Homo sapiens: one gene and its partner. The protein of the gene in region 1 interacts with the protein of each later gene in a pairwise test. Each region holds a gene or a part of one and is shown in the gene's direction. Other genes may lie near its edges.

Region 1 (15,870 bases):
AAATTTCCACCAAGAAGATTTAATAGTCACGGTCCCTTTTTTGTGCAGCTTTGAAATATATAGAGCAAAAACGGATAGAACTCTAAAGCCATACTTAACCAAATCCCTTGTCATGGTGAAAATTAACATACCTTTCTTAGAAATGCACTGTTTAAGTAGATAAAATGTACTTTTAATAGAGTTAACAAACTTGATCTAATAGAGCTTTTCTATCTGCCTTTGAGTTGCACATTGGCCAGCCCTTTCCAGTAATAATAATTGCTAACAACTGGTAACATTGAGAGTTTACCGTATTCCCAGTGGTGTTAGAAGTGAGACATAGAGAGGTTGAGTGACTCCTAAGAGCACACACAACAGGGATTTGGACCTAGTTTTACTCCAGAGCCTTAACCATTAAACTATACTGCCTCCCAAGTGACTCTCCTTCTACATCTGATCCTTAGGTATTCATGTTTATTGTAATTAGTTTAAAGTTTTGTTTTTTGACATATTTTGGTCAATTAAAATTGTGAATTCTAACTAGGCAGTAACTTTTCTGAAACTCATTTTAGAGGGGCTTTTAAGATAAATTATTCACAAAAGTCAAATCTAACGGAGGCCTGGCCTTTGTTTCACTTATTCTTTATTTTAAAATGAAAATGTTTTAATTAGTTTATGTTTATTAAACTAAAACATGCTCATAAAAATGTAGACACATAGGACATTTAAAAACACCAAAATCTCACCCCTCTTCAAGTTAAGCTAGTAATGTGTTTGTGTTTGTCCTTTAAGATGTTACATGTATTTTAAAGTAGAATCATCTTATTCTCACTGTTTTATATGTCTGTTCTTGTTTTGAGAATTTTTGTGACCATATTTTCAAGTCTATATAGTCTGAATCATTTTTATGGCTGTATAGTATTCTGTTGTATTCTATTGTATGGATGTAGGGTGATTTAACATCTTTTGTTGGGAATTTATTGTCATAATCTTACACGTATGTCTTTGCACATTTGTCTGATTATTTTATTTGTATAAGTTGGCAGAAGTGAAATTGCTGGGTTAAAGGGAATTGTCTGCTAGAAAGGCTAGTTTATACTCTAACCAGCAGTGTGTGAGAGTATCTAGTTTCCCACACCTTTGCCAACAATGAATTTTACAATTATTTTTAACCTTTGAAAGTCTGACAGATGAAAAATACCTTAATATTGTCTTAGTATATTTTTAAATTACTTGGTGAGGTTGAACATTTTTGGGGATGTTATTTTGCCATTTTAAAATTTATTTTTTGAATTGTTTCTTTTTTTTTGTAAATCTGTTAATTTATGTAACTCTGTCACGTGCAAATGTTTTTTCCCAGTTTTACATTGCCTTTGTCAGTGGTTTGTAGAATGCATTGTTATTACACAAGTAAAGAAACAGTTCCATCACTTACACCTTGCAAACATTTTAAGCACAAAAAATTAAAGTTGGTCAGCCTTTCCTTTATTAGATGCCTTGTTACCATGCTATTACAAGTTTTCCGTATTCTGAGAATTATAAAAATGTTCATTTATATTTTTTCTAGAACTTTTGTGACTTCATTCTTTAATAGCTCACTTATTCTAAGCAATAAAAATTGAGATTCCTAAGAAAAGAAACTATATTGTTTCTTAGAGCTTGTTTGAACAAAATTCAAGCAGTATATGTGTGATAGACACACTTGTATAAATGACAATTGTACCTAATTGATAGAAGCATAACATAGGTAGTAAATCCAAACTATTCTAAAGTATTCTGCAAGTTGATACAGATAGTAATTAAAAAAGTTTTTTAGAATATTTGTCTTTTTTTGCAACCATTATTTTTTTAAAGAATATGGGCAAGATGGCATTTTTAGAGAACTGATTTTATTCATCTTTAGAGAAGTAAATTTTATTTGTTTACCTTTTAAAGTAAGGTGTAAAATATAAAATATTTAAAAGTTGTAATTATTTAGCAAATATTTATTGAGCAGAACCAGCTTTCAGAGACTGTTTAAACTAGTGAGAGATAACCTAGTGAGAGACAAATAATTGTAAGTAAAATACATTCTAGAGGCATGATTGTTATATAGGTTTTGTATGGATTAAACATCAGTCCATATTTTTAAAATTGTGCACAATCTGTTTTCTTTGTCAGCATTTCAGTTTATGTCCTGTTTTTCCCACCCTGAGCAGAAGAGAGTGTATTTACTTAACTTTTCTTAACTCCTCTACCCACAGTTTAGCTTCCACTCTATCTTAGCATTATTAAATTATTGGGAACAAGTTTAGACACTCAAGAATAAAAACGTAAAATTATTAGTTTTTCCTATATTATAGGCATTAGTGGTGTGGATATTAATCAAGAAGAAAACTTTAAATCTTTTATTCCTGAACTTTGTTGAGAAATTCACTTCAGTTCTCTCCCTTCAAGCCTTGGTATGACATGCCGTAAATCCACATCTACCATATCTATATCTTACTTTGAATGAAATTTTCTTTTTAAATAGAATTTTGGGCCTGGATGTTGAGCTTTTTCCTTAAATATGTGTGCAACCCCGCCCCTATGTTTTTTCTTTCCTAGATGCCTGTCCCATTTTCAAATAATATTTCTTATTTCCTAATAATTCAGTTAAAAATACCTTCCCTAGCTTCTTGCTTCTTTGAGAACCCAGATCTGTTGCTGTTAATTTGTTAGTCTTGTGCTTTGTTAGTGTTCCCATGCTAAATTTTGCTAAGTTTGTGAAATGCACTTTTGAGTTTGTAAAAGCGCGTTGATTATTGACCTGAGTGGTAGGCTTAGAGGAGAGGCATGAAATAATGAGTACACGAGTGAACTGAATTGGGTTCTCTGTGAAATTGCTATGGTGAACACGATATGTAAAATTGGTTTGTACACCAGTAGCCACAAACATTGCTGTTTTTCTTAGGGATTTTTAAATAATAAAATAAATTTAAAAATCTAAATTAAATGGAATCAATATTGGCTTTGGTTAGTAAGACTTTGGCATTGCAAGGGAGCCAGAAAAACCTGTTTCACTTAACTCAGCTCTTTGAAGAGTTGTAGAAATTGGGGGTGGACTGGAGCAGAAACTAGAATTGTGTTAGATTATGACATCCTTGCCCTTGAGACAACAGCATGACTCCTCCTTGTCTTTACTTATGCTATTCCTCTGCCTGGAATGCCTTCCCTCCTTTCTATCTAAATCCTACCCACCTCCTCCACGAAGCCTTCTCTAACTACTGGAGCCCACATTGATGTCTCCCTGTTCAGAACACCTATGGCATCTAACAGCCAGCACTGCACCGTTTAGCACTGTTTGTCCTATGGCAATTTCACATGCTACTGAGTGTGAGTACATTAAAATATAAATGTGGGGAAATATGCATTTTTCCAGTAAATTTGAAAAACGATAGGTGTATTGTATACAGGAGGATTTACAGGCTATAGAAAGTTTTACAGGATATGCCTAAACTGTGAGATTGGGGGAGGAGGGGAGTTGGGGAGGGGGCTAAATGTACTTTTTTAAAAAAACTCAGAAACATTGTAAAGTTTATACAAATTGTTTTGTCCAAAGTGTCATGTTTTTTAAAAACTAATTTATTTTTATTCAGTAACAAGCCTAATTTTTTTTTTTATTTTAAAAGGTTGAGAAATAACATTTTCTGTAGTGTTTAATACTATTCAAATGATCAATTCTGGGATCAAAAAAGTTTTCTTCTTGCTTAGGCTAAGATACCTCTGTTCACCCATCTAATCTCATATCTTCTAAACCCTGCTCTTGGTATCAAATACTGAAATGTAATAAATGTCCAATTTTGTGATGTGGAGAAAACTGTATTTTATTATATCTCTTGTGTCTAATTTTGGGTATCTTTTACATGGTTAATATGAAGGGAATTTTAAATGTAAAGATAATTTTGATTTGTATTTATCTCATCTAATGCTAAGGGAGTTCAGACCATTGCTTTAACTAGATTTAAAAAAAAGCTTTCTCCAAGTCAGTGTATATTCAGAGTGTGGCCACACAAATATGAACAAATATTCTTAAATCATATTAAAGTCTGCTAAAGCTGCCTATATCTTTTAATTGTACCTGTGATCAGTTACGTATTCATTCTTTGGTTTAAATATATTTTTGATTATCTGACGACTTTTGAATACAGACCACATTTAGTTTCCTATATAATTAAGTGGATCAGGCTTATGCGTAGAATTTGTGAATGGTTCTGATAGAAGAATAAATAGCTTTATTGTACATTCTTTACATATGAAATGTCCTTTTAATTACATAATTCTTGAGCATATTTACATTTGGACAACAATCACATTAATTCTGGAGTAAGGTTAATATATAAAATGTATATGCTTGAAATACATAAATTTTCATTTAAACTGATTTTAAATGGTTTTGGTTTCTGATTGACTTTGTAATGATAATGTCTTCTATTTAAAATTCAACATGGGGATATATGATGTAAATGGTAATGTCCATTTGAATATTTTCATATAAGTATATATTATTCTATGTGTGTTTTTTAGAGGTACCAATCTTGGGAAAAAGAAGCAACACATTTGTCATATACCAGGATGTGGTAAAGTCTATGGGAAGACCTCACATCTGAGAGCTCATCTGCGTTGGCATTCTGGAGAACGCCCTTTTGTTTGTAACTGGATGTACTGTGGTAAAAGATTTACTCGAAGTGATGAATTACAGAGGCACAGAAGAACACATACAGGTTACTAATACTTACTTTTAACAGACAAAAATGAATTATAGGGCTACATAACTGCCTTGACTTCTTTTTTATTAGCATTCCTTACTGAACTGAATCGATTTAAAATACAATGAATTACATCCAATTTTTACCTTTAGTAACACCATCTTAATAACACAAATTCCAAAGAACAAGTCAGTCTGGCTTATCTTCTAAAATAAAGTTATATTTAAGTAGACTTTGGGTGGCTTTTGTTGACATTATTGAATGCTTTAAACCACATTTATACTATTTTTATTCTGTTAACATTTTTAATTAGTTGTCAGCTTTTACTCTTGATCTATCCTATTTTTTTTCTTTCCTCTTAACACTGTAACAAAAAATACTCCTGTTTCTTCTGACATATTTGGGCATTTCACCTTTTCTTTTGTTTTTAGTATCTCTGAGGTAAGGGAAAGGTATTTCACTGAGGAATAACCAAGGCAATGTTGATGTGAAGACTTTCTCTGATTATATTATTTTTACATAGTGTTGTGTGGTTGTTAAATGAAATGGACCTGTGACTGATCTACACTGAAACCTAACAGTGTTAACTTAGAGATAGTTTTTTCCTACTACCATGTAAATGATTAAAGTGTTCATCAGTCTATGCTCAACACTGGAGAATTGAAAACTATGTATTTACAATCCCTAGAGAGCTTGGAAGAAGCATGGTAAAATGGAGAACAACATGGATTTTGAAGTCATCTGGATTCCAATCCAAGTTCCCTATTAGGTTAAGCGAATAAACTATCTCTGACGTTGCTTCACATATCCTACTTTGGCCTTCAGTATTGTATAAAATTACCTATGAAGTCTGTAGTAGTATACAGATGCTCTAATAGTTTTAGTTCCTGTCTCTCATTGGGTAGGTAGACAGATGAGATTAACCTACATGAAACTGCAACAGACAATTAAGAAAGTAGATAAGGCTGCAGGGCGTGCTGGCCCATGCCTGTAATCCCGGCACTTTGGGAGGCCAAGGAAGGCAGATTGCTTGAGCCTCAGGAGTTTGAGACCAGCCTGGGCAACATGGTGAAACCGTGTCTCTCCTAGAAAGACAAAGAATAGCCGGGCGGATGGTGTGTACCTGTAGTCCCAGCTGCTCAGGAGGCTGAGGTGGGAGGATTGCTTGAGCCCATGGGGCGGCGGTTGCAGTGAGCCAAGGTCATGCCACTGTACTGCAGCCTGGGTGACAAAGTGAGATCCTGTCTCAAAAAAAAAAAAAAAAAAAAAAAGGTAGATAAAAGATTTTGCGTTGCAGTCTGCTGTTGAAAAGGCTCAGAAACAGAGATAATTACTGCTTGGGATAGTAAAGTATGGGATAATAGATCTTATGATGGCCCTGTTAACAGAATTTTCCTCAGTAGGATTTTATCAGCAGGTTGTAAAAAGGAATAATGTAAAAGGGAGAAAAAGGTCAATGATCAAATAAGTGTAGGAAATAGTGGGCCAAAGAGGGTATAAGTACCTTCAAGGCAGTACCTCTTAGGACCTTTAAATTAAATGCTAGATTGACAGCTTGCATCTATAAGTTAGTGATGTAATGTGTGTGTAGCATTTCCTAACCTTGTGCCGTTTGCCATGGAGTACCTCTCAGGACTAATGTTACAAGAGAAACTGGGAAATACTTTAGTAGAAAAATGGTGGTATGTTAATAGAAGAAGTGAGAGACCTTTTTTTGTAGCGGTGAATGAGGATGAGATTTTACATAACATTTCTGTTAAGTAGGATTGAGGCACACTTTAAAGGTCCTTGTAAATTAGGCAGTGGAGCATCTAAACTGTTACGTCATCTGCAAGTTACCCTTGCATTTCCATATCACTTAATATAATCTTGAAGTTTTCTGATGTAATAAAATTTGGTCTTTAAGGAAGATAGTCTGGAGAGAGAGAGAGACTAGGATGTGACTGCAGTATAGTTCAAGCATGAGGTCTGATAAAGACCTATGTAGAGTAGAGGTGCTAGAACAAAGGATACAAGCTAAGACATTTTTGAAGAAAGGAATTAAGAAAATATTTACTAGATTTATTGATTGATTTTTATTGATTTCTCTCTGAATTCCTTTTAGGTTGGCCTTTTGTCTTCTCTTTTGGTAATCTTGCAGAGTCGGTCTTCAACATAATAGAAGTTCAGTCTGTCTTTTGTATTTAAACTTACTTTATTCATGCTGGGAAATAAATTTAGGCATCAGGATTTTAACAGCTTTAACATCTTAACATATTAGGCTTGTTCTTGATTGTTGTAGCTGAAGTCAAGTCAGCTAGCCAGATTCATTTTTCTAAGGATTACTCATTCTTTTTGGATCTCAAGCTTGTGGTGTCATTTCTTTAATCTAGAAGTACCCTGTTGCTTTAATTCATATTTAAGAGTTGAAGGTTTAGTATCATGAACATGGCATGTTAGTATTTTAATTATAGCGTGAAAGAATATACTTTTATTTAGACTTTAAAGTGTGTTATAGATGCTTATTTTTTAGCTGGCATCTTAACACAGGTATTTCAAACAAACTCTTAGCGTAGTTGAGATATTAAAGTCTTATTTGAATATCCATCTATTATATAATACATGTTTGAAGACTGCTAGTCATCAAAAAGTAAAGATGAAAGATTTAAGGAGAAATATTCTGTAAGAGAAATCTGGCAGGGGTAGCTCGTAAAATGAATACAATTTTAATAGACCCCTGCTCCCATCCTCACCTGTCAGCGTTGACTTACTTTCTGTTTTGGGGGAGATGATTGAGCTATTAAAGTTGAATTTTTAAAACCAAGTAACTTAATTTTTTTCTTAACAGGTGAGAAGAAATTTGTTTGTCCAGAATGTTCAAAACGCTTTATGAGAAGTGACCACCTTGCCAAACATATTAAAACACACCAGAATAAAAAAGGTATTCACTCTAGCAGTACAGTGCTGGCATCTGTGGAAGCTGCGCGAGATGATACTTTGATTACTGCAGGAGGAACAACGCTTATCCTTGCAAATATTCAACAAGGTTCTGTTTCAGGGATAGGAACTGTTAATACTTCCGCCACCAGCAATCAAGATATCCTTACCAACACTGAAATACCTTTACAGCTTGTCACAGTTTCTGGAAATGAGACAATGGAGTAAATATTACACAAATACTTATTCATTGTGGTTATTTTTATACAGTAGTGAGAAGAATATTGTTCCTAAGTTCTTAGATATCTTTTTATTGATGTGCAAAAATTTTTGGATTGACAGTAACTTGGTTATACATGACACTGAAATGCCTTACTTTGTATGATATTCCATAGTATATTAAAAATGGTAAAATTGCATGGGTTTTGTAGGTACTTTTGGAATCTAGAAGAAATGAAATTTTACCAAGTTATATAAAGAGAAAATTGAATTTAACAATGCGAATGGTAGTCTAACCAAATGCATCAATCCTGTGTGGTTTAGTGTAAAAATGAGAACATGTTGGTATTTATCTATTGTAAGATAAAAAAGCTGGTGGGTGAAAGAAATCATGTTATGATAAAAAATTTTGTAATTTTCTTGATGACTGGAATTTTTATTATGCATAACTGACAAATCAAGTTTCCAAGCAAATGTTACATAGTGTAGGCTTTACTTAGCTTATCAATTTGTCATTTTGAAGCTAATTATTTTAATTAGGTTAACTATGTACAATATTTTAAGCATTACTCTTGTAAGATTTTGAAAACTACATTTTAACATGGAACTCTAGGGATAGTCACCTTTTAAATCCTGTTGAAAAGCCATGTTTAAGATTTAATTTGCCAAAATAATGTCTTGTTAATATTCTTTCAATAACGAAGTTGGGCAATATAACCAATGTTTAAAAAAGTTTAAAATGTATAAGTTGAGGCATTTGGGTGGTAAGAGAATGTTATAGTGAATTATCCCTTTTCTTGACTATTGGAGGACCAAAAAAATAAGGTGTATTGCGTCTTAGCAGTGATTTTTATCCAATCTTGTTTCCAAAAACCATGTCTCCCAGGGCCTTAAAAGCCATCATGTAAATTACCAGTAAAGTGTAACATATGCAAACATAACAAAATCACTTCCATAGTGACGATACTCCAACCATATGGATATTAGTCATAGAAGAACTAGAGGTTTTATGATATTTTTTTAAGTCTTTTTTTTTTTTGTCTAGGTAGTCAGTCTGCACTTAAATATCAATCATTTTCCTTTTTTGCTTCTTCCCTTAAAATTTATATGTATCCAGTACATTTAATTGAGAAGCGTATGTTTTTTATTATGCTGTATTTTCTTTTTATTTTTTAATTATTGTTTATATTTTCAATTCAAAAATGTACAAAATAAAGTTACATTGCTGGTCTTGTAAGAGCTATACAGTTTTCCTAAATGTATACCTGTAACTGCAGCAGTTCACCTATTTCAAAAATTTGGAATTCTGTTCATTTGTTATTCTTAAGACCACCTCAAATTTAAAGGCTACCTTATTGTACGTTTAAAGTGTATTATAACAGTGTGGTAGTTAATAAAACACTATTTTTTTTTCTTTTGAGTTTGTTGTATTCCTATGCATAAAAAATATTGCAGTGGTATGGGGTAAGAATTGGTGGTTTATTTTTCTTCAACTTGGCTTTTTATTTTTAGATTCTTGATTTTAGACACTGAATTGTAAACAGGCATTTATTTGAAGAAGAGATATATAGAGACACTGGTCATTTACTAATTTTTTACCTAGAGTAAATAAGAATGAGCTTATTAAATAAAATTTTTGAAAAAAAGTCTTAGCCCTTAGCCCACATTGATTCATATCAGTTTTATCAGTACCATTTTGCAATTTTTTTGTTTTCCGTTTTAAAGCAATGCAGAATATTTTGATTTATCGAAAACCTGAATTTACATTAAGACTCCTGAAAATGATAAGACAAGCGTTGGTAACCATGGCAGGAGTTACTTGAAAAAGTTGCCTTTGAATTTGCATGTGTTTCATCATTATAAAGGCAGAGTAGGAGGAAAGAGTATTAATGTGATTGTGTATTGTAGATGTTTTAAAGTAAAAATCAAGTTTCTTAACACATGTATACAGTGGGGGTAAAGATGTCCATTTTCTGTTTTCCAGGCCCAGTCTGACTCTGTCTGTAATACCTGATTGCATTGGAGAACTCTAGACACGCATAAACATGGACAGTTTTTCTAAATGTGAGACTTAAGCCTGTGATGTAAAATAGGAAGTTCTACTTGGAATAATATAAAGGAACCACTAGAATTTACAATTATTTTGAAGTTACAGGGATTAGATTTTGAATCTTAAAATCCTTTAGGTAATTTTTAGAATTTTTAAATTAAGATTAATGTGAAGAGAATTAAGTGAGCAGCAGGTGGTTCACTTGAGCAAACTGCCCATTAAGTCAGATTAAACCATTTGAATGATAGTAGAGATGTTTTAAGTAATACTGGATTTTTACAGTAAGTTTATGGTGTACTTTGAATCGATAGGTGTCCATGCATATTTTATGAATTCGTGGAGAATGAATGCAATGAAGAAAGTAAGTAGTCTTGAAAATTATTTAAATAAAGTTGTAGATTTTTTTAGTGCCCCCTAGGAATATATTAGTGAACTTTGGAACTTTTACCAAAGTTATGTAACCTCAGTGTAGATAATTTTAAATATTTCTATTTTTATATTTTAAAATGTTGAATATACTCTGGAAACAACATTTGAAGATTTGCTCTGATGTCAACTTTTTCTGGTTATAAAACCTATTAGTATTGTGTATAATTCTCAGGGTAGGTATACTCTAATAGGTGTTTTGTCAATTGCTTTATTTTTGTAAAGGCTAGAGTTAGTGCATATTGAATATATTTATGTACAAATAATTCCTGTTGTAACATTTAGTGGACGCGATTATCTGTATACCTCAAATTTTAATTTAAGAAAGTATCACTTAAAGAGCATCTCATTTTCTATAGATTGAGGCTTAATTACTGAAAAGTGACTCAACCAAAAAGCACATAACCTTTTAAAGGAGCTACACCTACCGCAGAAAGTCAGATGCCCTGTAAATAACTTTGGTCTTTCAAAATAGTGGCAATGCTTAAGATACTTAAAAATACACATACATATAAGCTGAAAGCATGTCAAGCCTATTTCATAGAAAATAGTTCTTAAACAGTATTGTTCATTAGAAATTGCTGGGGAGCATTTTAGAGATTCCATAGGCCTGGTAGCCACCTCAGCTTACTAAATCAACATCTCTGGAGATGGAGTGTATATGTGTTTTGAAACAGCTGCTCAAGTGGTTCTGTTAAACACTCCTGCGTTACAATCACTTAAAATAGAGCAAGCATCCCCTTAGGCTCTTAATTGTAGTTTAAATTCCAGTACTGCCTACTCAGACCCAAAAGTTTTGTTTTATGAAAAATTTGTATTGTGTTCAATATTGTTTGAAATTTGGGGTTGTTGCATAAATGATTATGGAATAACATTTGGTTTTAAAATAATATAAACTGACATGTTATGCTACCTGTTACACAATTTGGTTTTCAGTTTTAATTATATGAAGCTGGTAACAATCGTTTTTGTTGTAAAAGAATTATTTTTCACTAAACAGTATGTTTAAAACTGACTGCCATGAATGAGTACTAAGTCTTTTGTTGTCTGACAATAAGCACAAAACAAATTAATTGATATCTTTGGTACAAATTTGATATTTTTGTGAAATCACCTCATAATTTTATTTAGTGTTGAAGAAACAACATTGGCCCCTTGCCTTGTTCAGACAGATTTGCGTATAATGTAAATATATATATTAGTGGCAGAAACAAAGTACTGTAGAAACCTAGAAGAGGGAGAATTCTGCATGAAGTCTGGGAAACTCAGCAGAAATGGCGTTTGCAAAGGTACAGTGTGGTATGTTGGGTGATGGGGGACTTTGTGAGGGACAGAGTGGAAAAATTTTTAAGAGGGGCTGCCAAATTGCAAAAGAGAAGAATTTTTTTTGTCAGTGATTCCTAGTCTTTTTGGAATCCTACACCTTCTCCCCAGAAAAATTCATTCTAGTCCAGGGTTTATTGTTTGTTTTTTCCCTATATTTGACAGGGTCTGTCTCTGTCACACAGTGCAGTGGTGCAATCATGGCTTACTGCAGACTCCACTTACTGGTCTCAAGCAATCCTCCCCACTTCGGCCTCTTAAGTAGCTTGGACCACAGGTGCACACCACCATGCTCAGTTAATTTTAATTTGTTTTGTAGAGATGGGGTCTCACTATATTGCCTAGGCTGGTCTTGAATTCCTGGGCTCAAGTGATCCTTCCACCTCTGCCTCCCAAAGTGTTGGGATTATAGGCGTGAGCCACCACGCTTGGCCAAATCTGGAGTCTAAAGGGTATACAAGGTTTTTTTTTTTCCCATGTTGGCTTTTATTTGATGTTATAAAGTCTTCATGATATGAATATATTTTTTAAAAAGGTGTCATGTATATTGTCATGTAACATGATTCATGCCACTTCATTGTATTAAATACGTTTAAGATACAGTTTTTGATGTTAAGAATGATATCCTGAGAAGGCCTATCTCCTTCAGTCCTTTTCCCCATTTTTCACCTTTTAACTCTTGCTTCTGAATCTATGCTAAGCTACTTACTAGATGTGTGATATTGGTAGTTTTCTTACCTTAAAACCTCATTTTCATCATCCATGAAGAGGCTAACAATAGTACTCCCTGTTGATAGGATTGTTGTATTAAAATATAAGCATTCAGCATAGTGCCTGACTTAACGGTAGAGATTCAAATGGTAACCTCCTTCCAATGCCTTCCTCCCCCCTTAACTCTGGAGATTCCATTTTTCTGTAGTGAAGTGTTTTAGAATTTTCATTGTTTGACTATGGTTCATACATTGATTTTTCCAAAATGAGAAGAAGTCTTATTTCTAATGCAAAAATGTGAAAAGAACAGTTGGAACCTAAAGTGATAGTGGATGAAGTGTCTGAAGTGACTGCCCTATCAGAAAAGGATGGAATAAGAAGAAAAGACTGAAGCACCTAAATGTGTATTTTCTTGAGGAAATTACACCCCTGTGTAAGAGTCTATCCTATTTGAACATTTCTAAAAACCAGCCGAAGAATCTTCAGGTTCATTGCGACTGAAAGATAAAGTCTAGCACTGAAGTGGTTTTTAAGATTAGGAAAGGCCATCAGAGAAATGCAGTTATTTCTCCCCTCCATCCTTCCCCCACAAAAAAAAGTCTAAGCCTCCGATTAATCGACAACAACGAAATACAGGAAGTATTGGCTTAGTGACCTTTTAGGATATCTGTCCGACTTACATCCCTTCTCTGAGCATTACTTTCTGCCACCTTCCGTGAGGAGCTGTTCAGAAATCAGACAAGGAGTGGACATCTGGTCAAAGTTGAGCCAATTAGATGATTTCTCCTGAGAATTTGGAATTGGAAAACTGATGTCTTGGGAGGTCACATCTGGAACATACATGGGAGGCAGAGAAAGCAAAGATGACATTCAACCCCAGAAGAAAAAGAAAATGGCTTTCTTGATTCCTGATAACTTGGCAGTGTTTGTTCCAGTGTCTTGCATTTCACTATCTGCATTTCATCCTCCTGGGGTTCCACAAGATAGCCTTAAAACCTTACAGAGAGACTCCCCAACTTAGTTTTTTCTTAAGTCAGAAGGCTGTTACTTGCTACCAAATAATGCCAACTAAGACAACTGAGGTACAGTATATTCTCTCGTAAAACACCATAGAGTTGATGACTTGATCCTATAGAAAAGGGTCCCCAACCCCTGGGCCACAGACCGGTACTGGTCCCTGGTCTGTGAGGAACCACCTGGGCCACAGACTGGTCCTGGTCCCTGGTCTGTGAGGAACCAGGCCATACAGCAGGAGGTAAGCGAGCATTCCTGCCTGAGCTCTGCCTCCTGTCAGATGAGCCACAACATTAGATTCTCATAGGAGTGCGAACCCCGTTGTGAACCCCGCATGCGAGGGATCTAGGTAGTGCCCTCCTTAAGAGAATCTAATGTCTGATGATCTGAGGTAGAGCAGTTTCATCCTACAACCATCCCCACCCCCCGACCCCCATCCATGAAAAAATTGTCTTCCTCAAAACTAGTCCCTGGTGCCAAAAAGTTTGGGGACCGCCGTCCTAGGAAATACCAACAAAAAGTCACGTTTATTGCCTGCCAAGTGAGTCAGGTTTAGACAAGGCAGAACTTAGTATATAGCTTGGATGAATCAGAAAGGGTGGGCCTTGAAAGACTGGTAGAATGTGTCCAAGAAAACTGATTAAAAGCCTTAGAAGTCCCTCTACAGTTTCAGGACGCCCTCTTAACAGATGGCTGTATCTTTATCTGTGGTTGGTCTTGTGGAATACTGACTTTCTGCCAGCATTAGCCTGTGTTTCTATGTCACACCAAGTCACGTATATTTTCATTGTGTGTTAGGACTCAGAATAGGTTTGGGTCTTTCTTTTAATTATGTATACCCAATTACTTAGTCCTCCTCACACCCTGATCCTTTAAAAATTCTTAAGTTGTGTTAATTGCATTTTTCTCAATTCTACTCCTAGTAACTCTGTGTGTTTTTTTCCATCTTTATTCATTTAGTAAAGTTGAAACCTTTCATAGCATAATATAGTGATTAAGTGCATAGGTTTGGGACTTAGACACACATGGGCTTGCTTGTCTCCCAGTTCTGCCGCTTACCACCTATGTGACCTTTCACTCTTTACCTTTCCACTCTTAGCCTGTTCTCTAACTATAAAATGAGAATGATGCTAGCGTCATCTTCATAGAGTGATTATGGAGATAAATAAGTTAATGCATGTAAACCACTTTCCATAATGCCTGGCACATATTATATTATGTATTAGTAAATGTAAGCACTGGAAGAATCAGTAGTCTTCCTACACTTGAAAATAGTTGTCTTCAACTATTGTTGTATTAATGAGTTAATTCACCTTGTTAAGTCACCTTGATCCACCTAATTGTCAGCCAACATTTATTAACGAAACTGCTAGTATTCGTATTGTGCCTTTTTTATTATGAAACATTTCAAGAATACAGAAAAATGCAGAAAACAATGTAACAAATACCTAAGTATCTATCACCCAACTTTTATAGTCTTATTTTTACCTATATATTTTTTCTTTTAGAAAGGAATGATCACAGTTGTGCCTGAAATCTGTATAGCCCTGTCTCATTTCATTTGTCTCCCTTTACCCACATAAGTAATTGCAGCTCTGAATTTGATGTTTATCAGAATGATACCATGAGTGGTTTTATATCCTTATTATATGTATGCATACCTAGGATTGTTTTTCTGATTTTGAAACTTCATATAAATGGTATCATTCTGTACAAAACCTTCTGGGACTTGTTTTACCACTCATGTTTTTGAGATGTATCCACACTACCATCTTTCTCTAAATCATTCATTTAAATGCTGTAGTTCATTGAATAAGTTTATCACAATGTATCCATTTTCTTCTTGATGAGCATCTCAGTTATTTCCAATTTTTGACTTATAAACAATGCTGCAATGAAATAATTGACATATTTCCTTGTGTACATGTGAGCATTTCTTGAGATATGTATCTAGAACTTGAATCACTGGCCAACAGGATATTCTTAATCTTCAGTTTCACCAGATACTTCCAAATTGATCTCCATAACATGCATACCAAATTATATTCCTACCAGCCATTTATAGGAGTTCACATTTTTTCCATACCCTCCCAATCCTGCCTTGGCAGATATGTTTTTTCCAATGAATAACAATGAAATTTTGTTTTGGGATTTGACAAAATGATTCTAGATTCATCTGGAAGAAAAGCAAGTATAAGTAAGAAATTTAAAAGGGACCTGAAAAACTAAGCAATGGATATATTTAAAAATTGGTACCAGTAGGGATAACCAAATATTTGTTAACTGTAGCAGAAACAATGCATGTTTTTCTCACTGGTTCCACCTTCTATCTCTCAGTCAAGCCCTGCCCAGGTGTGGTAGTCCTCATAGTCTCTCACTGTAGGGGTCTTCTCACATAGTAGACCACTCTCTTGAGTTGAATATTGAAAAGAAGGCTTGGCCGGGGGCAGTGGCTCATGCCTGTGGTCCCAGCACTTTGGGAAGCTGAGTCGAGCGGATTGCTTG
Region 2 (16,112 bases), on another chromosome or scaffold:
GCCTGCCCACCTCAGCCTTCCAAAGTGCTGGGATTACAGGCATGAGCCACCACGCCTGGCCTAGGACTTCTTGTATGTTGGAAACTGAGGGGCACTCAGGCTTTCCTGCTCAAAAACACCTCCCTACCGGCCTAAAATTCAACAGTTTTTGTCACTAGGGTTCCTTATGAAAATGTTAATCTAATACCTGAGCAGAACTGCACATTAACTCAGAATTTTCTCATGGGACAAGATGGGTATAAACAGATATTATATCAATATTAATTATCATATTCCTTAGACATAGAAAAGCAACCAATCTGCCCCCTTTTAAGGGCCTTTCCCAGAAGTGCCATCCAGCAATTTCTACTGATAACTCATTGGACAGAACTATGTCATGTGGCCATTGTAACTGCAGGGAACTTGAAAATGCGTGTGTGTTTTTTTAAAGTCAAGTCCAAGTGTATTGAACTAAGTCCAGGCCTCTCTGAACTGAGTTGGAGATCCTTTAGTAAAAGAAGGGGAGAAATGATATTGGGGTAGGCATCTAGCAGTGACTTGTAGAAACCAATGGTCCATCTGGTATAGGGCTTCATCTTGGTATATGGCATACCCTGATGAGACATCGTGCCTGGCCTCTAATATGCTATCCTGCAATGAACCAATCATAGTCATGAAAACCTCATATCATTACAGACTCACATGTATCTTCCTAGACACTTCTTCTGGTAATGAATATATTTTCAATTTATATACGATTCTTTCTCTGGTTATTTAATAAGTTAGTGAGATTTAAAAATGTATTAAAATTGCTTCAGATCCATCACTGTCATGAATGATGTTAGAAAATATTTGCCAGAAGCCAAACATTTGAACAGCTTTAACCATGACATCAGAAAAACTACAATTACATTCAGGAAAGAGCTGCTTGATGTGTGACATTAAAATGCAGTTCCCCAGGCAACTGAGAGGGAGATACATTCAATAACAACAGAGCTTCCATGAATTGCTAAGATCTTACAGAATTTGCAACACCTTTTATTTATTTTTCATTGACAGTTAAATTACAACTTGAAAGCATCTGCTGACTAGAAAACAAATCCTCTGCTCTGGATAAACTAGGCCTCCTCCCAAAATAACTACTACCGATAGAGGAGCTCGGGAGAAGTGGGGAGCAGTGGAAATGTGCAGATGAGACATACAGCCCTGCCATCGGACACTGTTGTGTTGGAGATAATGCTCTGCAGATAGATATTGATCCATGTCTAGATTGTCCCTTCCTCAGATGATAGAGCCCTGACCCAGTGTTCTCATCATACATAAGTTTGAAAGCCTTCTTGATGAATGGTGTCATTTCGCAATGCCTAGTTGGGAACTCAGCATATGGGCTTTTAATAGTAAATTGCATTCAGTGAAATGCATCTTTTGAGGTATCATTTCATAGTTCTGTCATCAGGTGTTGCACTAAGTACATTAAAAAATATATTAGCCCAGCACGGTGGCTCACTCCTGTAATCCCAGTATTTTGGGAGGCCAAGGCAGAAGAATCTGTTGAGGCCTGGAGTTTGAGACCAGCCTGGGCAACAAAGTGAGACCCCCATCTCTAAAAAACAACAACAAAAAAACCAAACTCTAGTTGGGTGGTGGAGTTTAGGTGTGAGAGTTTGAGAGAGCAACAATATTAAATGGTGGCTCACTCCTGTAGTCCCAGCTACTGGGGAGGCTGAGCTAGGAAGATTGTTTAGCCCAGGCATTCAAGGCTGCAGTGAGCCATGATCATGCCACTGCACTCCAGCCTGGGCAACAGAGCAAGACCCCTTCTTTAAAATAAATAAATAAACACCAAACTTGTAGTATTTACAATACAGTTTTACCTCAGTTAAATCACTCTGTTGCTGAAAATCTTGAAACAAACTATACCCTATTGACTTACATTATAATTAAAAAAAATTTTTTTTCTATTTTCATTAACCAAGGAACAGAAATGTTTTATTTCAACTTTTGATTAATTTTCAGTTAATGATAAGAAACAGCACTTTAAACTGGGTGTGGTAGCACGAGCCTGTGATCCCAGCTACTCAGCAGGCTGAGGCGGAAGGATCACTTCTTTTTTTTTTTTTTTGAGACAGAGTCTTGCTCTTCTCCCAGGCTGGAGTGCAGTGGCACAGTCTCAGCTCACTGCAAACTCCGCCTCCCAGGCTCAAGGGAGTCTCCTGCCTTAGCCTCCCCAGTAGCTGGGATTACAGGCATGCGCCACTATGCCCAGCTAATTTTTTTATTTTTAGGGGTTTCACCATGTTGGCCAGGCTGGTCTTGAACTCCTGATCTCAGGTGATCTGCCCACCTCAGCCTCCCAAAGTGCTAGGACTGCAGGTGTGAGCCACCACGCCTGGCCGAGGATCACTTCTTGAGCCCAGGAGTTCAAGGCCAGCCTTTGCAACAGTGAGACTCCATCTCAAAAAAAAAAAAAGAACACTTCAAGTTTTCTGTCTATACTTAGACTCTCTTAAGTAAAGCAGCACCAAATATTATTTTTTTTTCCCCAAGGGATCTGCCTTTTTAAAAATTTTTAAATTTTTTCTTTTTTCACTGGTTGTAGCAACAATAAAATCTAGGGGAACTTGCTAGAATTAAAATATTGCTTTTGTATAAAGACATTTTTGTCATTAATAATGGCCAATACTTATTTTTCAAATTGTATATGTCTAATACTGTTGCTCTCTCAAACTCTCACAATAAGCCTATGACAAAGACTCTATATATAATACTCATTTTACAGAGGAGGAACCAGGCTTAAAGAAATTAAGAAACTTGCCCATTGACAACAAAGATAATTGATGGAGCCAGGCCATGAACCCAGACAGTGAAACTGAAGGTTGTTTCTTTACCACCGCATGACATGGCTGTTAGGTTTTTTCTACATTTTTCCTTTTGTTGCGCTACTTTTGGTTTCATTTCTAAGAAATCCAATTGCCTAACTCAAGGTCTTGAAGATTTATGCCTATATTTTCTTCCAAGAGTTTAATAATTTTACCTCTTACATTCTGATTTTCTTTTGTTTTATTTTTTAGAGATAAGATCTCGCTATGTTGCCCCGGCTGGCCTCAAACTCCTGGGCTCAAGACTTCTCCAGCCTCAGCCTCCAGCATAGCTGGGACCACAGGTGGCTGTTACTGCACCTACCCGATGAGTTTATTTTTGTATATGTTGTGAGATAGAGGTTCAACTTCTTCCTTTTGTATGTAGATATCCAGTCGTCCTAGTATCATTTGTTGAAAAGAGTCTTCTTTCCCCATTAAATTGTCTTGGCATCCTTGTCAAAAATCAATCAAACATAAATGTAAGGATTAATACACTTGTGTGATATATTTGATTACATTCCCTCACATTCATTGAGTTCTTTACCTCAGGAACCCTAATTATCCTTACACTGGATCATCTTTGTCTTCTCTAATAGCTTTCATGTTTGTCTTTTGTTCTGTATTCACTCTCACGTCTTTCCTTATGTCAGCAATTACAGTTTCAGCAGTATCTACTTTGTACATGGTTCTTTCTAATTGATTCTATAATAATGATGGTCCTCAATTTATTTTGTTGATCCATAGCTCCCCTTTCAATTCTATTATTTTGGCTTTTGTCTTATTAAATTCATGATTTTTGTTTGTTTGTCTGTTTTTTTTAGACTGAGTCTCGCTCTGTTGCCCAGGCTGGAGTGCAGTGGCGTGATCTCAGCTTACTGCAACCTCTGCCTCCCAAGTTCAAGCCATTCTCCTGCCTCAGCCTCCCAAGTAGCTGAGATTACAGGTGCCCACCACGCTGGCTAATTTTTGTATTTTTAATACAGACAGCGTTTCACCATGTTTGCCAGGCTGGTCTCGAACTCCTGACCTCAGGTGATCTTCCTGCCTCAACCTCCCAAAGTGCTGGGATTACAGGCATGAGCCACTGCACCCAGCCTGAATTTATACTTTTATTGAGTTAGTCTCTGGCATCAAACATTCGTGAGGAATTTTCTTCTGTTCCATGAGATTTGCTTTCTTCTTAGTTGCATTATTTGCCTTTATGTCTCCTGCATGCCATATGATGTTCCCCCTTGGTTTTCTTTTGTTTTGTTTGGCTGGTGTGTGTTTGCACGGTTGCCATGCTGTTTCTCTGCCCCCTGCCCATGCTTGGGAGGCTGTTTCCTGACACTGCGTATCTCTGATATTGTTGAGACATCTTCAGGTTTTTCCATGATAACAGAAGCCCTTTTGTTTTCCTGACTCTGCTGCAGTCTGGAGCTTGAGGAGCTGTGTTGCATCCCTTCTTCTGGGGTAATGTGGAGGCAGGGACAGAGTTCAGCAGCGCTGAGGTGCACTTTCTATTAGCATCCCTCTTAGCATCTGCCTGTTCTTCTGAGATGGTATTGCAGATTCTCTACCAGGGACACATGTCTGTTAGGGTATCCTTTATGGGTACATTTAGGCTTTGGATGGCTTATTATACTCAATATGAGGCTCTTGGGCCTTTTTTTTTTTTGAGATGGAGTCTCGCTGTGTCATCCAGGCTGGGGTGCAGTGGCGTGATCTTGGCTCACTGGAACCTCTGCCTCCCAGATTCAAATGATTCTTCTGCCTCAGCCTCCTGAGTAGCTGGGACTACAGGTGCCTACCATCATGCCCGGCTAATTTTTGTATTTTTTATTAGAGACGGGGTTCCATCACGTTGGCCAGGCTATTCTTGAACTACTGACCTCAAATGATTCACCTGCCTTGGCCTTCCAAAGTGCTGGGATTACGGGCTTGGGTCACCATGCCCGGCCACCTTTTCTTTGTACCTTTCTACCTTGATCCAAAATCTCCTCCAGAGTTTGAATTTCAAGTATAGAGCCTCCATCAAGTTCACTTAAATTTGCTTTTTTCCAATTACTGTTGCCAAATACCCAATGTTAGTTTGTCTATTACCCTTGGTGTTTGGACAAATTGAAACTGTGGTTTTCTTCTGCTGTTATACCACAACAACAGTCAACACAGAAGACTCTGTGACCAAATGGGTGGGGGTTTTCTCCCACACACCAAGCAGGGGACATCAGCTAGGTGTCCTCCCTCTTATTTAATTCAATTCTGATTCTGCCTACCTGGAGATAGCTGTAGATCCCACAAGTTGAAGGCTCAGTCCCCAACACTGGCCCCTCCTTTCCACCACTCACAAGTCTGGGCCTCTGGAACTTTTGATTGACTGGCTTCAAGTTGGGGTTTCCACAACCCCCTCTTTGGGTTCAATTAATTTGCTAGAGTGACTCAAAGAACTCAGGGAAACACTTACGTTTACCAGTTTATTATGAAGGATATTACAAAAGATACAGATGAAAAGATGCATAGGGTGAGGTATGGGGTAAGAGGTATGGAGTTTCCATGCCCTCCCTGGGCACACCACCCTCCAGGAACCTCCACATATTCAGCTGTCCAAAACCTCCCTGAGCCCTGCCGTCTGGGCCTTTTATGTTCGTTGTATAGGCATGATTGAAGCATGGACAGCCGTGTCAAGGTGTGATTGACCTCTCTGTGCAGCCATGCTTCCTCCAGGGTATGAGGCAGGACCCTGTTTGCAATGAGGGTTTATGATCCGTAATCAGAAAGGCGGGAGATGATTAGAGTCCTGCCTTTAGTGAGTGGAAGGGGAGCAGAAGGTGAGAGAGAGAGAGAGAGAGAGAGAGAGAGAGATTGATTCTATTTTCTGAGGCCTAAAGTGCCCCAACATTGTAACAAAAGACTGTGAGTTATGAACCAGGTACTATGGCTGAAAACCTACATATACATGTATCATCATATCACACTTGGCAAACAACTCTTTGTACATTTCTGTAGCACTGCAGTGTTCAGTCTCTGACTTGGTGTGTCTTTCTCATCTGCCTCTTTGTTCTGCTGCTGTCCTAGAAATTAGAGACTTTAAAAAATTCCTTGGCTTTTTGGTAGAAAGAAACTCCCAGACTGGGTCCAAGCTGAAAATGAATCCCTTACTGGGTGAAAAACATGGATGCGGTAACAATTCCTGGCTGTAAATGCTCATAATATTACTGTTGAACCATTTTATGCTAATAAATTATCTGGGACCTACTTCCCTTTTGGTTTATTCCTCTTTTTTTCTCCTGTTGCTACTTATAACCATCCTTGTCAACTATCTACATTTTACTATTAAATTATTCATATAATGTTGGTGATTTCAAAGTTTTCTTGTATTATTTTTGGGCATTTGGCCGAAAGGCACTGCCTCCATTTTACAAGTTAGCATGTATCCAGAGGCCCTGTCCTGCAACAAAGGTGCAGGTGCCTCAGTGGCAATACGTGTAAGAAAATGTTAATTTTTAGGGTAAAAATTTCATTAGAAACTGTCTTTGTGGAATACAATATTAGTTAATCTTTACACATGTTTTTAAAGGAAGACGAAAGATTGCCACTAAAAATAAATTCGTACTGAAAGCATCTCTATCTACTCTCTCCATTTTTAAAGTACCTCACTTAGTATCTTTGTTTTCATTTGTTAAATGCAAGGTCATCCTTTGAATGTTGTCTTCAACTATGCTTGAAATAGCTTGAGACCCAGCAGATAATTCTGACCAGGAGGTATCAGCAGACAGTGGGCAGCACAGTTAGAGGAAAAAAATGTTGCAGGGCCCCACTCCCAATAAAAACCTACAATAAAAAATTTAAAAATTTTAATAAAGAGGAAAATGACAAAGAGGTTTTCCAAAGGATGTTCATATTCTCTATTTAAAAACCCCACTGGGCCGGGTACGGTGGCTCAGGCCTATAATCCTGAGCCCTGGAGTTCGAGACCAGCTTTGGCAACATGGTGAAACCTTATCTCTACCAAAAATACAAAAATTAGCCAGTCTCATAACCCGCTCTTAAATAAATAGATTAAAATTTAAAAATAAATAAATAAATAAATAAATAAATAAATAAATAACCCCACTGATATGAACATTTCTTCCATTTTGGAGTAAAGGTGCCTACAAGGCTAGGCAATGTCCATATTTCTTTCCTGAATGTTTCCAACGGGGCTGCGCCTAGAGCAGATGTATCATAAATACTAATTACTTATTATAATGACCAAGCTACATTGTTAGCATAGAATAATTCCACAGGCTTCCCTATTGGTTTGTTTGATCCTAAGCCTATTAATACCTGCTTCTATGTCAGAAAATCTACATTAGGCCAGGCATGGTGGCTCACACCTGTAATCCCAGCACTTTGGGAGGCCGAGGCAGGTGGATCACCTGAGGTCAGGAGTTCGAGACCAGCCTGGCCAACATGGCAAAACCCCACCTCTCCTAAAAATACAAAAATTTAGCCGGGCATGGTGGCAGGTGCCTGTAATCCCAGCTACTCAGGAGGCTGAGGCAGGAGAATCGTTTGAACCCAGGAGGCGGAGGATGAAGTGAGCCTCAAAAAAAAAAAAAGAAAAAAAATATTATTTTGATACATGTTTTAAAGCTCACCTTCGGCATTATGAGATAATCCCTCAAGTGAGGAAAAAGGTCCATTTATTAATCTCAAAGAAAACAGTTACAGCAGATGTCACTGGTTAAGAGTTCAGTTGGTGAATAGCATTTCACAATTTGTACCAACATCTGGGGAAAGACGCTTTGCATGGAACTGTAAAACAATTGAGCACCAAATCTGCACAACTGCGTTTCTAGAAAATGCGATGGGTTTTATAGAGATGAGGTCTTGCTATGTTTTCCAGGCTGGTCTCGAACTCTTGGCCTCAAGCGATCCTCCCGCCTCGGTCTCCCCAAGCGCCGGGAGTACAGGCGTGAGCCACCGACGGAAATGGATTTTAAGTGAAAGTCCTATCTTCGTTTGCAAATCAATTTTTCCAGGATCAAAGTTCTAGCAACCATAAATCCTATCCTTCTAGACATAGGGACCCACATAAGGGCCACTTGATGTGACACTTGCCCCGACAGCGGTGCCACCTGGCCCCTAGGTGGCAGGTGCGTTTTTAACTAAACCCAAGAGTCTGAAGTCACATTATTCTCTTGCCTTGAAAGCTTAAGAGTTGGTTCCTAATCGGTGGCTTAACTCGGTCTCTCTCCAGGCAAGGCCACCTGTTTGCTGATCTTTCACAGGGCGAGGGGACCGGAGCCCTTCAATGCAGCGCCCTCTTGGCCTGAAGAGGGGGCGACTGGGCGCCCAGACCGCGTCTTTCTCACTGAGATCCCAGCTCCTGGACGACTGCCTCTTTTCGGGTTCGGCTCATTCCGCAATAAGTGGAGGGGTCCCGCCTGATCCTAGGGGCCGGCGCCCTTTTCCTTCCCTCCCTGCGCTTGCGAACCCCTCCGGGCGTCTCCGGAGCCGCGACCCCTGCTGGGGACCCCGGGGGCGGGAGGCCGAGGGGCGCGGCGAGGGCCGTGACGCGAGGCGGGGCCGGCCAATGGGAGCGCTCCGCGGCGCAGGCTGAGCCGCCGGGCCATAAAAAGGAGGCGCGGCCGGGCTTTCCAGCCTGTGGCCGCTCCCGGCTCGGAGTGTGATCTAAGCAGGTTGCGTACCTTCCTCAGGTGACTCCGGCCACAGCCCATTGTCCGCGGCCACCGGCGGAGTTTAGCCGCAGACCTCGAAGCGCCCCGGGGTCCTTCCCGAACGGCAGCGGCTGCGGCGGGTCCATGGAGAAGGGCCCTGTGCGGGCACCGGCGGAGAAGCCGCGGGGCGCCAGGTGCAGCAATGGGTTCCCCGAGCGGGATCCGCCGCGGCCCGGGCCCAGCAGGCCGGCGGAGAAGCCCCCGCGGCCCGAGGCCAAGAGCGCGCAGCCCGCGGACGGCTGGAAGGGCGAGCGGCCCCGCAGCGAGGAGGATAACGAGCTGAACCTCCCTAACCTGGCAGCCGCCTACTCGTCCATCCTGAGCTCGCTGGGCGAGAACCCCCAGCGGCAAGGGCTGCTCAAGACGCCCTGGAGGGCGGCCTCGGCCATGCAGTTCTTCACCAAGGGCTACCAGGAGACCATCTCAGGTCAGTGCGCCCGCGGGCTGCTAGAGCGTGCGGGCGGCGGGGGCGGTGCTTGCAGGAAACGCGCGCCGGCTCCAGGAAGTTTCCGGAGTTGCCTCACTTTTGGCGCAGGAAGCCGGGCGCTGTCACCTCCGAACCCGCCCTAGCCTGCCGCCCTGCCGAGGCCCTGCGTGGGGCACAGTCGGGGCTTCCTGGGTGGCAGCGACCTCTCAGCCCCGGAACTCGCTGCAGCCGCCTTCCAGGGGCCCTTCCCGCTCCCAGCGCGCAGCCCTCCTAGAACGCCCCGGGTGGGCGTGGACGGGAGCCCGGAGCCCTCTCGCCTGAGCGCCCAGCGCGGGATTCTCGGGGTACCTGCGGTTCCAAACTTGCCCACGATAAGGATCACCTGGGCACTTGCTGCGGCGACGGCTTCCTGGGTAGTTCCTTATTGAGATCCCATTGTCAGGGTGTGTATCTGGATTGAAGCCTCGGCGCGATCCTTCCCCGAAACCTCGGGGACCTGCATTCCCACTGATTTGCCAGGGGATCGGAGTCTTAGAGTTGTGCTTTTTTTTTTGTCCACCTCAAGTTTACTCCAGTTCAGGACATTTACAAAATTCGGCACAATTTTGGGCACGGGCTTCCCCGGAGTTTGAGGTGTGAGGTTGATTGGGTGAGTTTGCTGCTGAAATCTGTTTCCTCCCCCCACCCCCAACCCCGCAAAAAGCAGTAAAGCTACTCCGGGATTCGGAGGGCTCCGTGGGTTCCAGGACTCAGTCTCATCCCCGCACCCTCCCACCCTAAAATAAAGCCGGGTTGACCCGGTGCTGTTAGCGTCTGAGGCGTGTCGGCTTTTCACCCAGAGGGTGGGGATGCAATCAGTGTGGGTAGGATGCAAGATGGGGTGATGGAGAGTGGAAAATGGGGACTTTGCTGCCTGTTGGCCAGAGAAGCAGTATTGGTCTGTGTTTAAAAAAATAAAGCTTCTGGCTTCTACAGCTGGGACCAAAGACATTATTTTCCAGTCTACACCTTCCGTGTGTCTTGGTGACATTTATTTATTTGCCCTAAGAAGCATTCTACCGTTCACTGTTTTTTGAAAGAAAAACAGTGCGCTGGAAAGGCAATCTCCCTGCCCCAGTTATTTCTCTGAAGGAGTGTAGAGCGATTCCACCAAATAGACCCTGGGAAAAAGAAAGTTATTTTTTGCCCAGTCTTCCACACCCCAAAGGAAGGGTGGGAAATCAGAATGTGAAAGAGACGGGGCCCCAAAAGGAAATGATGCTACACTCTAAAACCGGCAGTGACTTCTAGTTCTGTTTCCAAATTCACTTTTTTTTACCCCTCAATTGCAAAAGTTTGGAATCTCAGAAGAGATTTCAAAATACAAAGACTGAAAAATAAACTTTCAGTTTTCTGTGGGATCAGCTCTTTGGAGGTCTAGGGCTTTAAATTTGTGTGTGTGTGTGTGTGTGTGTGTGTGTGTGTGTGTGTGTGTGAGATATTTCACAATGTAATGAAATGTCTTCTTAAGGCCTTACTCATTTTGCCCCTTGCAGACACAGAAAGTGGTTTACTTCACAGCATCGGCCAGGCTTTGGGAATCCTCCCTTAAAGAGAATTCATAGGACAGTGTTCTGTAATCTAGCATGGATCTAATTACCCAAAGAGAGAGGAATTTCTGACCCTGAGACAGGTCACAGAATTATCTAAAGTGACTCACAGATTTACTTGAGAAATGGTTAGCTGAAATATCTCATGAGCGAAGATTCATTTAAAGAGGATTAATAACTGCAAAGAACACATCATTCCACATTAGAAAACTGTTCTGGTTGGCCGAGCTCGGTGCTCACGCCTGTAATCCCAGCACTTTGGGAGGCCGAGGTGGGCGGATCACCTGAGGTCAGGAGTTCAAGACCAGCCCGGTCAACATGGCGAAACCCCGTCTCTACTAAAGATACAAAAAAATTAGCCGGGTGTGATGGCGGGCGCCTGTAGTCCCAGCTACTCGGGAGGCTGAGGCAGGAGAATCACTTGAACCCAGGAGGAGGAGGTTGCAGTGAGCCGAGATTGCACCACTGCACTCCAGCCTGGACGACAGAGGGAGACTCTGTCTCCAGAAAAAACAAAAAAAACAAAAAAACTGTTCTGGTCAAGTTTTACTATTTAAAAAGTCCATGGGCCGGGCGCGGTGGCTCACACCTGTAATCCCAGCACTTTGGGAGGCCGAGGCGGGCGGATCACCTGAGGTCAGGAGTTCGAGACCAGCCTGGCCAACATGGGAAAACCCATTCTCTACCAAAAATACAAAAATTAGCCGGGCATGGTGTCAGGTGCCTGTAATCCCAGCTACTCAGGAAGCTGAGGTAGGAGAATCATTTGAACCCTGGAGGCGGAGGTTGCAGTGAGCCGAGATCGCACCATTACACTCCAGCCTGGGCAACAAGAACTAAACTCCATTTCAAAAAAAAAAAAAGTCCATGGATGTAGAGACACTGCAAGATTAGTAGTTGTCAGGGACTGGCGAGAAGAGGGGGATGGGTAGTGATTGTTTAATGAGTATGGAGCTTCCTTTGGAGCTTCCTTTTGGAGTCATGAAAATGTTCTGGAACTAGAGAGTGGTGATAGTTGCACAATATTGTGAATGCCACTGGATTGTAACTTCAAGATGGCTAAAAATGACCAATTTTATATATATTTTACCACAATATAAAGACAGGTTTTGTGGCGTGCCTGCAGTCCCAGCTACTAGGGAGGCTGAGGCAGGAGGATAGTTGTTGCTCAGGAGAACAGCCTGGGCAACGTGGGGAGACCCTGTTTCAGAAAAGAAAAGTCCATGGAGCGGACCATTTAAGATTATTATTATTATGTTTATTTTCATGTTTTTGAGACAGGGTTTGGCTCTGCTGCCTAGGCTGGAGTGCAGTGGCGCAATCTCGGCTCACTGCAGTCTCACTCTGCTGGACTCAAGTGATCCCACCTCAGCCTCCTGAATAGCTGGAACTACAGGCTTGTGCCACCATGCCCTGCTAATTTTTGTATTTTTGATAGAGACGGGTTTTTGCCATGTTGCCCGGGCTGGTCTTGAACTCCTGAGCTCAAGGGATCTGCCTGCCTTGGCTTCCCAGAGTGCTAGGATTACAGGTGTGAGCCACCATACCCAGCCCATTTAAGATTATTATAAGCCATTAATTGAATATAATCATGCATTACATTATGATGTTTCCTTCAATGATGGACCACATGTATGAAGGTGGTTTATAAGATTACAATGGAGCTGAAAAATTCACATTGTCTGGTGATGTCTTGGTGATCCTGACCTGTGTAGGCCTAGAGTAATGTGTTTGTTTGTGTCTTAGTTTTTTCCTCTCGTCTCCCCCATGTCTTAGTTTTTAACAAAATTTAAAAATTAAGAAAATTGGGCCAGGCATGGTGGCTCACACCTGTAATCCCAGCACTTTGGGAGGCCAAGGTGGGCGGATTACTTGAGGTTAGGAGTTAGAAAGAGACCAGCCTGGCCAACATGTTGAAACCCCATCTCTACTAAACATGTAAAAATTAGCCAGATGTGGTGGCGCATACCTGTAGTCACAGCTACTTGGAAGGCTGAGGCAGGAGAATCACTTGAACCCAGAAGGTGGAGGTTGCAGTGAGCCGAGATTGCACCAATGCACTGCAGCCTGGTTGACAGAGTGAGACTCCGTCTCAACAGTAAATAAATAAATAAAAATAAAAATTAAAATTAAAAATAGAAAAAGGTATAGAACAAGGATATAAAATATTTTTGCACAGCTGTACAATGTGTTTTTGTTTTAAGCTGTGTTATTACAAAAGAGTCAAAGTTTTAAATACATTAAGCTGAAATTATTGAAGAAAAAATATGTTTAGTGTAGCCCAAGTGTACAGTGTTTATAAAGTTTACAGTAGTGTACAGTAATGTCCTAGGCCTTCACATTCACTTACCATGCATTCACTGACTCACCCAGAGCAACTTCCAATCCTGCAAGCTCCTTTCATGGTAAGTGCCCTACACAGACATACCATCTTAAGTCTTTTCTACTATATTTTTACTGTACCTTTTCTATGTTTAGATGTCTTTCTAAAATTATTATTATTTGTATTTTAAATATAGAGGCAGGGTCTCACTGTTTTGCCCAGGCTGGTCTCGAACTCCTGGGCTCAAGTGATCCTCTCCTCTTGGTCTCCCAAAGTGCTGGGATTACAGGCATGAGCTATCCCACCTGGCCTACATATCTTTAAATACACAAATACCATTGTGTTACAGTTGCCTGCAGCATTCATTACAGTAACATGCCATACAGGTTTGTAGCCTAGGAATAATAGGCTCTACCGTGTAGCCTAGGTGTGTAATAGGCTATCTCATCTAGGTTTGTGTTAGCACTCTCTTCCTTCAGTGTTTGCGATATGAAACTGCATTTCTCAGGTGTTTCTCAGAATGTATCCCCATTGTTAAGCAATGCATGACCGTACTTTTTAATGGGTTAAAAGCTTTACGTTGGATGGTCTTGGTTCATCTTCCAGTTTTCAAGTAAACATTTCTCTTATCCCCATGACAAGGCAACTGAGGCAGAGAGGTTGACACAAGTAGTAGAGCTGGTATTTGAATCCAGAGAGTCTGACTGCAGAATTCTTAGCCACTTCCTTATACTGCTACAGAGAGAACTGAATCAGTGTACCCTATCTGTATATTTCAAACTGTGAATTGGGTCAACAGCATTAAAAAAAAAAGTGGAGTAGCCGGGCGCGGTGGCTCACGCCTGTAATCCCAGCACTTTGGGAGGCCGAGGCGGGTGGATCACCTGAGGTTGGGAGTTCGAGACCAACCTGACTAACATGGAGAAACCCCTTCTCTACTAAAAATACAAAAATTAGCCAGGTGTGGTGGTGCATGCCTGTAATCCCAGCTACTTGGGAGGCTGAAGCAGGAGAATTGCTTGAACCCAGGAGGCGGAAATTGCAGTGAGCCAAGATTGCACCATTGCACTCCAGCCTGGGCAACAAGAGCGAAACTCAGTCTCAGAAAAAAAAAGTGAGTAGAGGTTGGGCACGGGGGCTCAAGTCTGTAATCCCAGCACTTTGGGAGGCTGAGGTGGGCAAATAACGAGGTCAAGAGATCAAGAACCCCGTCTCTACTAAAAATACAAAAATTAGCTGGGTGTGGTGGTGCGTGCCTGTAGTCCCAGCTACTTGGGAGGCTGAGGCAGGAGAATCACTTGAACCCGGGAGGCGGAGGTTGCAGTGAGCCGAGATTGTGCCACTGCACTCCAGCCTGGCGACAGAGCAAGACTCCATCTCAAAAAAAAAAAAAAAAAACAAAAAGTGGAGTAGAATGGATAAGATCAGTCTATCACATATAGTAAGGACAAGTGTTTTGAGAAACTTCTTCTTTTGTTTTTTTTTTTTTTGAGATGAAGTCTCACTCTGTAGCCCAGGCTGGAGTGCAGTGGCGCGATCTGGGCTCACTGCAAGCTCGGTCTCCCGGTTCACACCATTCTCCTGCCTCAGCCTCCTGAGTAGCTGGGATTACAGGCGCCCGCTACCACACCCGGCTAATTTTTTTTTTTTGTATTTTTTTAGTAGAGATGGGGTTTCACCGTGTTAGCCAGGATGGTCTTGATCTCCTGACTTTGTGATCCGCCCGCCTCGGCCTCCCAAAGTGCTGGGATTACAGGCGTGAGCCACCGCTCCCGGCCGAGAAACTTCTATGTAGGTTTTATAGGCATAATTGTGTGTGTGTGCACTGGCTCCAGATGTAAAATGCATTTCTTACTGTAGGTTGTAGTCAAAAGTTTGAAAGCCTGTATCTAGGGGATCTGTTTAAGGATTTAATATTTCTTTTTTTTTTTTAAAGAGATATATAATTAAAGAGAAGACAGAGTAGTGAGAACAAGGATGATGCTGAACTTAAAGGAATGAACCTGAAATGTGGTGGGGTCTTGGACCAACCTGGATGGCAGGGAGAAGGAAGGATACTGGTGGGAGATAGGAGTGAGTGGGAACCCACATCTTTAGGTCCATAAACGCTTCTGCACAATCCCTTTTATTTCTTTAGAGAGCATGAGTCAAGTGGCCACTATATATTGTTTTTGGATAAGAACATACTTCTCTGAAGGTCACTTTTCTGTGCTTGTAAACAGGATACAGGACTTTATATCTTTTATATATCTGTATTCTATATATTAACTCCTGGTTAGTAATGTTGACTTAAGTGTTGTAAAATTTAAAATAAGTTGGTATTTTACATTCTTCAAAATCCATTTTTCCTCCCAGTGCCTCTTGTGTGGATTGATCCAAATTCCTGGCATTCTGGGGAATTTGTTCAGTTTTCCCTACGTTGCAGCGTCTCTCCATGACTGTCTCCTTGTGCACCTTTTCCCTACTTTCCAGTGTGTACCTTCCATGGGAGCATCTGTGGTCATCTGTGACCAGGGTGGTGTCAGGGTTGTATAGGTTTCCTAGTACTATTCCCTACTGGACTGTAGCTCATGGGCTAGGAGGGAGGGCTGGAGGAGACGCTATCATCTCTCCCAGGAACTGGCTGTCCTTTGAATCTACATCACAAGCTGATCCTTGGACCAGCTCAGACCAGCTCGTCTTGATCTATTTCTGTGCCATTTCAGTTTAGCTGTATCCTAGTTCTCTTAAATATTCAAGGTTTTATCTTGGTGAGTTCTCCTTTCTATATAAGGTACCTTTCCTGTATTTCCACTATTCTTTTATTCAGAACCTACACTTAGTTAAATTGGAGAGTCTGCTATTCTCTGAGGGCCTTGATCTTCATGCCCCTGTAACTGACCCTTCCAGGTATACATGGGAACAGCCTTTCAGACAGCATTATCTACCAAGGATTAAATGGGTATAACTTGTTCCATCAGTTGTTTTTTATGAGTTTTTGGGAATATGCAAGAGTCTTGACTCTGTCACATTTCCAGTTAAAGTAGGTTTTAGCTTGTCTGCCAAGACAGTTTTTATAAATCATGTTAACAGTTCAAAATTTTGGGAAGCATGCATATAATCCAGCGTGAGGAGATGGCATTGGAGATGGCTGACTGCTTCCCTGTGAGGGCTGAGGAAGCACAGACACTGGCAGTGAGTCATATCCCCACCTCAGCCATTTTCACTGGAAGATTATGTCTATTCGCTAAA

The links.
Region 2: the proteins of SP3 (region 1) and GCH1 interact in a two-hybrid assay, tested with the Homo sapiens proteins (one study listed by BioGRID and IntAct).

Annotation. Positions count from the first base shown.
Region 1 is NC_000002.12:173,901,921-173,917,790, reverse strand, and holds part of SP3 (transcription factor Sp3), read left to right. Parts: intron 1-4,524; coding exon 4,525-4,721; intron 4,722-7,533; coding exon 7,534-7,850; 3' UTR 7,851-15,870. UniProt on the Homo sapiens protein: Transcriptional factor that can act as an activator or repressor depending on isoform and/or post-translational modifications. Binds to GT and GC boxes promoter elements. Competes with SP1 for the GC-box promoters.
Region 2 is NC_000014.9:54,895,178-54,911,289, reverse strand, and holds the start of GCH1 (GTP cyclohydrolase 1), read left to right. Parts: upstream 1-8,463; 5' UTR 8,464-8,626; coding exon 8,627-8,969; intron 8,970-16,112. UniProt on the Homo sapiens protein: Positively regulates nitric oxide synthesis in umbilical vein endothelial cells (HUVECs). May be involved in dopamine synthesis. May modify pain sensitivity and persistence.